Regions from separate parts of the Homo sapiens genome. Here region 1 is linked to region 2. Evidence: fine-mapped expression QTL. Tissue or cell type: hippocampus. Region 2 holds a variant in brackets; the other region holds the start of a gene. All regions are shown on one strand. Distances are between the middles of the regions.

Region 1 (2,682 bases), 870 kb after region 2:
CCCGCCCCCACGCGCGCGCGCGCACACACACATGCACGCGCGCACACACACACCATCTTCACAACCCTTCCAAGAGAAAACCTAGAGTGTGTGTCCGTTTGGGTCTGGGAGGGCAGGATACAGTTATTTCGGGGGCCCCAATCTTGCCTTTAGGCTCAGCTGGGAGAAGGCGGGGCCCCTGCAAGGCTGCCCGGGAACTTCGGCCCCGCGCCCCGCGGGAGGGCTAAGAGAGGGCACGCACACCTTTACCAGCTTCGGAACGGCCCAATTAATAACTAATTTGCTCAGATACCCCACTCCAAGTAGACCTGACAGCCAAGGAGGGACTGGCTTTCCCTCTCAGTCTCCTAGGCTAGGGGACTCCTTCCTGCGAGCGGGCAGAGCCCCCACTTCCTCCCCACCACCGCGCCAGGCGCCCCCACCCCGTGCCCGGAGGAATCAGGTGTCCTCCCGGGCATCCAGCCCCCGCGGGTCCCAGACACTTACTTCAGGGACAGACAATGGGAAAACTTGCAGCCAGTGCCTTGAGCCCCCGAGGGAAAGAAATGGTGCCGCCCCCTGGGACAATGAGCGGGGGAGATGGCGTGGGACAGCAGACACCCCCCAGAGAAGCCACCCGCCCAGTGACCCCGCAGAGCCCGGAGCAGCGCCCCGGGTGAGCAGGTGACACTCCGGCCGGGAGCTCCCGCAGGTGGCCGGTGGCCACACTGCAGGGAAGGGCCGGGTGCCCGGCCCGGGGTGGAGGCGAAGCGCGGCGGCGAGGTCAGAGCGCGGCGGCCGGCGCCGCAGCCGCACCCCCGGCGTCCTACCTTCATGTCGCTGATGATGGTCTGGAAGAGGCCTCCGAGCGCGCTGCATTCCTTCTCAATCACAGCCTCCATTTTCCCGGCTCCGGCAGGGCGAGGGCACACACGCGGGGCCGCTGGACTGCGCGCGGGGCCGGGGCTCGCTCACCCCAGAAGGAATTTCACCTTCCGAGAGACCCACCTCGGACTCGCAGCCTCTTCTGCAGCGAGGACGGGGTGCACCAGACCGACTGTTCTCTGCCCAAAATAATAACAGTAATTTAAAAAGCCAAACCGCTCTGTAGGGTATTCGCCTACAAGCAGCGCTCGGCTCCTGGCCTTAAAAATGCCGGGAGAAGACTGACAATCAGGCCACCACTGGTGCCCACTACGGAAACGGCAAAGCCCATCTTGATGCAGAGAAAATCGCCCGCTGACCCGGGGCCAGCGCCATTGAAAAACGCAAGATTTTCCAATTTAATAAATTTTTCTGCAATTAAAAAAAAATCGCCCAACAGCAGAGCGGGTCAGCTCGCGGCGTCCGGATCTGTTGCTCGCAGCTGCGGCCGCCGCCTCCTTTTCACTCCTGCGCGCCCGGCCCCGGCGCTCGCTCTGGCTGGGCTCCCGGGGACGTTCGGAGGGGCGCACGCGCGCTCGCGGCCGTGCCCGCCAAGCGGAGGCGCGCTCTCGCGGCCGTGCGGCCGCCGCACGCGGGCGGGGCTGGGAGCGCGCGCCCGAGAGGCGCGTGGGGCACCCGCCGCAAAGAGGAGCCTGCTGGTCTGCTGGCGGGCAGGCGGCGCTGGGCCGGAGCCTCTCCCTCCGGTGCGCACAGCGCACCCTCTCCTCCCCCGGCCGCCCGTCGCAGCGCGGAGAGGGCGTGTCGGCACCCTGCCTGGCGAGCGCCCACCCCTACAATGGCTGCGAGCGCGCGGGACGGAGGGTGCACCGCCGCTCCCCGGGGACTTGCACGGGTGGCGCGCCTAGCCCAGAGCCCGCTTGTAGTGAGCGCTCAGTAGGGCGGGAAAGCTGCTGCCGCTACTGCGGCCTTCTGAGAAGACGCCCATTCTCTGATGTCAGGACTGCATCGCCGAGTCCTGATTGCAAATAGCGAAATATATAATTAAGGAGAGTTCGGGGGCGTATCCTGCAATGGGATGCCGAGTTCGATAAAGTTGCAGGATGCTGGGAAAGTGGATTGATTTGCTGTTGCTAAATGAATGGAAACAGCGTTAGAGCTTCTGTCCACGATCCATCAGTCTATCGAGATTGCTGATTGCCTATGACTTGGACGGTTGATGGTTTTCAGGCCCACTGAGAGCAGCCAGCGTTGGTATAACCGCAGGGAGCCCTCCTGGGAGGTTGAACCTGCAGAGCGCAAATGTGCCCAGGTTGATTTGGGGCCTAGTGGTCCATTTTCACAGCTCCACTGCCTATCTGCATAACCAGGAGCCCTCATTCAGATGAACGCCAAATGGGCCAGAGGGAGGAGAATCAAATGAGCAACTTTTAAAAGATATTAAGACATAGGCACCTAACTCCGGACAGTTCCTTTAACCCTTGAGCTAACCATTTGAAGCACAAAACATAACAAAAGAAAAGACTGGGGGGAGTGGGGCCAAAAGAAACCAAGTGCAAAATTCTGTACACTTGTGTCAGATTCACTCCGTAATGGGAAAAGGTCTGGCTTTGAAAACTTTATGGATCAAAGGGATGCATGGAGTTACACAGCACAGCTGCAGAAGATAATGTTCCCCTGGATCACTCTGCCCAACTCTTAACTGCAACCCACCTTCCCCATCCGTCTCCCCGAAATCACCCGGAAGGGTGTTACCTTCAGGAAGTAACTGATCTCTTGATCACCCCTGCTGGATCCTGTCCCCAAGGGCGTTCGAATGCA
Region 2 (2,682 bases):
GTTGCCTCAGGAACTCATAGAAAATGTGGGGCCTCTCACAAGATTGTTAGACTTTTAAAACATAAATTTTTATTTTACAGAAAAGTTGCAAAGATAATTGAGTTCTCTTAAATTTCTCACTCAGTTTTCCCTAATGGTAACATCTTATATTACCATGGTACATTTATGAAAATGAAGAAACTGAAAATGCAGCATTACTATTAACTAAGCTCCACGCTTTATTTGGATTTCACAAGTTTTTCCACGAATGTCTTTTTCTGTTCTAGGAGCCAGTCCAGAATCCCACATTGTAATTTTTGGAGATGGATTTTGAGGCAAATGTAATCATCCCTAAGGTTATATATCATATATCATATATGAAATATGTATTAGATATAGATGTATTCTATGTGTCTATTTAGCTACCTATCAGATCAATTTTATTCTTATTTTTGTAGAGACGGGGCCTCGCTATGTTGCTCAGGTTGGTCTCAAACTCCTGGGCTCAAGCGATCCTCCTGCCTCAGCCTTCCAAAGTGCTCGGATTACGTGCGTGAGCCACTGTGCCCACCCTCAGACTTTAAAATAGACGAAATCTTTTTTTGAGACAGTCTCACTCTATAGCCCAGGCTGGAGTGCAGTGGTACAATCTTGGCTCACTGCAGCCGCCACCTCCCAGGTTCAAGTGAGTCTCGTGCCTCAGGCTCCAGAATAGCTGGGATTACAGGTGCTTGCCATCACACCCGGCTAATTTCTGTATTTTTAGAGAAGACGGGGTTTCACCATGACGGCCAGGATGGTCTCAAACTTCTGACCTCAAACGATCCACCCACCTCAGCCTCCCAAAGTGCTGGGATTATAGGCGTGAGCCACCGTACCCGGCCTAAAATAGAAGAAATCATTTTTATTCAACAGTTCTTAGAAAGGTCTTAATGAGGAAATGATACAGATGATGATTTGGACCCAAGGCTGTTGAAAAATTGTTACTTTTTTCCTGGGGTATTGTATTAATCAGGGGAGATTTTACAAGGGTGGATGAGTAGAGAAAAAGGGGTAGGTACGCCTCACCACGGGCAAGCGTGGAGTAACATATTTTGAGAGAACCTATCCAAGTTGCACGTATGCAGGTGACATGCTCATGGCTATGATGAAGACCTGGAGGAGGAAAAGGCCAGAAAGCTGCAGACAACCCAACAGTGTCAAGCACAGAGGCTGGTTTTCACTGAGAACGATGTAAGAAGGAACAACATCGCGGCCTTGATGAAGCCACAGTGATGCTACCCAGGGACTCTGCAGAGCTGCCAGTCTCCTGCAACTCCACAGAGCCTGGACAGGGCAGCAGAAGGTGCACCTCTGAGGAGCAAAGGATGCAGGGCTTCTGTGGGCCTGGCTCTCAGGGAAGCATCAGGGACCGTGATTAGAAAGTTTACGTCTGAGTGCTGGCCCTTCAGTAAAGGCCTGTGTGACTTCTGGCAGGCTCCTGTCAGTCCTGAGTCTCTTCATCTATAAAATGAAAAGACGTCTGGTGAGATGGTTTCTCAGGACAGTTACGGCTCCAACATGATGCCACGGCAATTATAACATAAACAATGCCTTATGTTTGTAAATGATCTAGGC[T/C]TTTCTGAGCTGTTTCGAGGAAGTTATTGCATTTTATCCTTATGACAACACTGAGAGGATGAGAAAAAAATATTACCTGCATTTTATTACTCCTTTCCCCAGTAGGGTGTTGATACCCTCTAGATCATTCCAAGCTCTGGGGAAATCCAAGGCTCCTCCCACAGTGCACACCCAGATGTCTGCGTGTTCTGGGAGATTATGTGGTTGCAGTCACAGTCACTTTCCTTCTGGGCTGTCACAGCTTCATCTCGGATCTCTGCTGTGTAGCATGTCAACTCAAATGTGAAACTTAGATTCATTGCCACAAAAGAGTCCATCACACTGTGTTTCTGAGTGTGGTGGTCTATGATGGGGATTGGGACAGAGGGCCAATGGAGGAGGTGTTCCCATTTCAGGAATGTGAATAGAACAGGGGACCGAAGGGTATCTTCTGTCCCTTTATTACCAAGGGTGTCTTCACAGGCCCTTCTCATTTTGTCTAAGCCTTGGGGATGGGCTCTCAGCAGAACAAAGAAAGAAGCCCATTCTGGGAGGAGGAAGCAGCTTGAGCAGAGGTGACTGTGGGGACTGCCAGGCATGGTGGGGGATAGCGGGAGACTGTGGGAGTGAAACTGGGAGTGAAAGCCAATCTCTCCAGGCTTCCTGGCACTGCGTTTATTCTTCTGCTATACACTTACCATAATCTGTCTCGTATCCTAGTTTGTTAAAATTTTTATTGAAGTGAAATTCATGTAACATAACTATTTCAAAGTGTACAGTTCCGCAGCATTCGGTACATTCACAATGGCTTACAATCATCACCTCTACCTAGTTCTAAAGCAGTTTTAGCTCCAAAGGAGACCCTATTACTCTCAGCTTTCCCTCTTCAATCGGCCCTGGGTCACAATGAATCTGCATTTTGTCCATACGGATTTACCTATTTTGGAGATTTCATATAAATGGAATCGAAGGTTGCCCAGGGGACAGATGAAAAGGCTGGAATTTAGCTCAAACAGTTCAGGATCCAGGACAGTTCCAGGCATCATGGGAGAGGGATGCTGTGATGCGTGCTCTCAGTTCTTTTATGTGTTTGGGGAGCCTGACTGG

Which allele goes with the higher level. Positions count from the first base shown, and alleles are read on the strand shown. Sizes are in standard deviations (SD) of each study's normalised expression.
As copies of C replace T in region 2, the expression in hippocampus of the gene that starts at base 1,399 in region 1 goes down (moderate effect, 0.58 SD a copy in GTEx).

What was found. PIP is the estimated chance that this variant, and not a neighbour inherited with it, causes the effect.
Region 1: it holds the start of MTSS1, and the variant in region 2 is fine-mapped to the expression of MTSS1 in hippocampus (GTEx, PIP above 0.99).

The regions. Positions count from the first base shown.
Region 1 is chr8:124,727,075-124,729,756 of GRCh38, forward strand. It overlaps MTSS1 (MTSS I-BAR domain containing 1), which reads right to left and starts at 1,399. Exons shown (of 14, transcript NM_014751.6): 1 at 810-1,399. The coding sequence starts at 881. It overlaps LOC105375741 (a long non-coding RNA gene), which reads left to right and starts at 1,465. Exons shown (of 3, transcript XR_002956670.2): 1 at 1,465-2,682.
Region 2 is chr8:123,852,592-123,855,273 of GRCh38, forward strand. The region is part of intron 1 of FER1L6 (fer-1 like family member 6); the gene reads left to right. Among named protein-coding and RNA genes, the nearest start is that of FER1L6, 1.9 kb to the left of the region's middle. The variant T/C (reference allele first, on the strand shown) is at 1,597.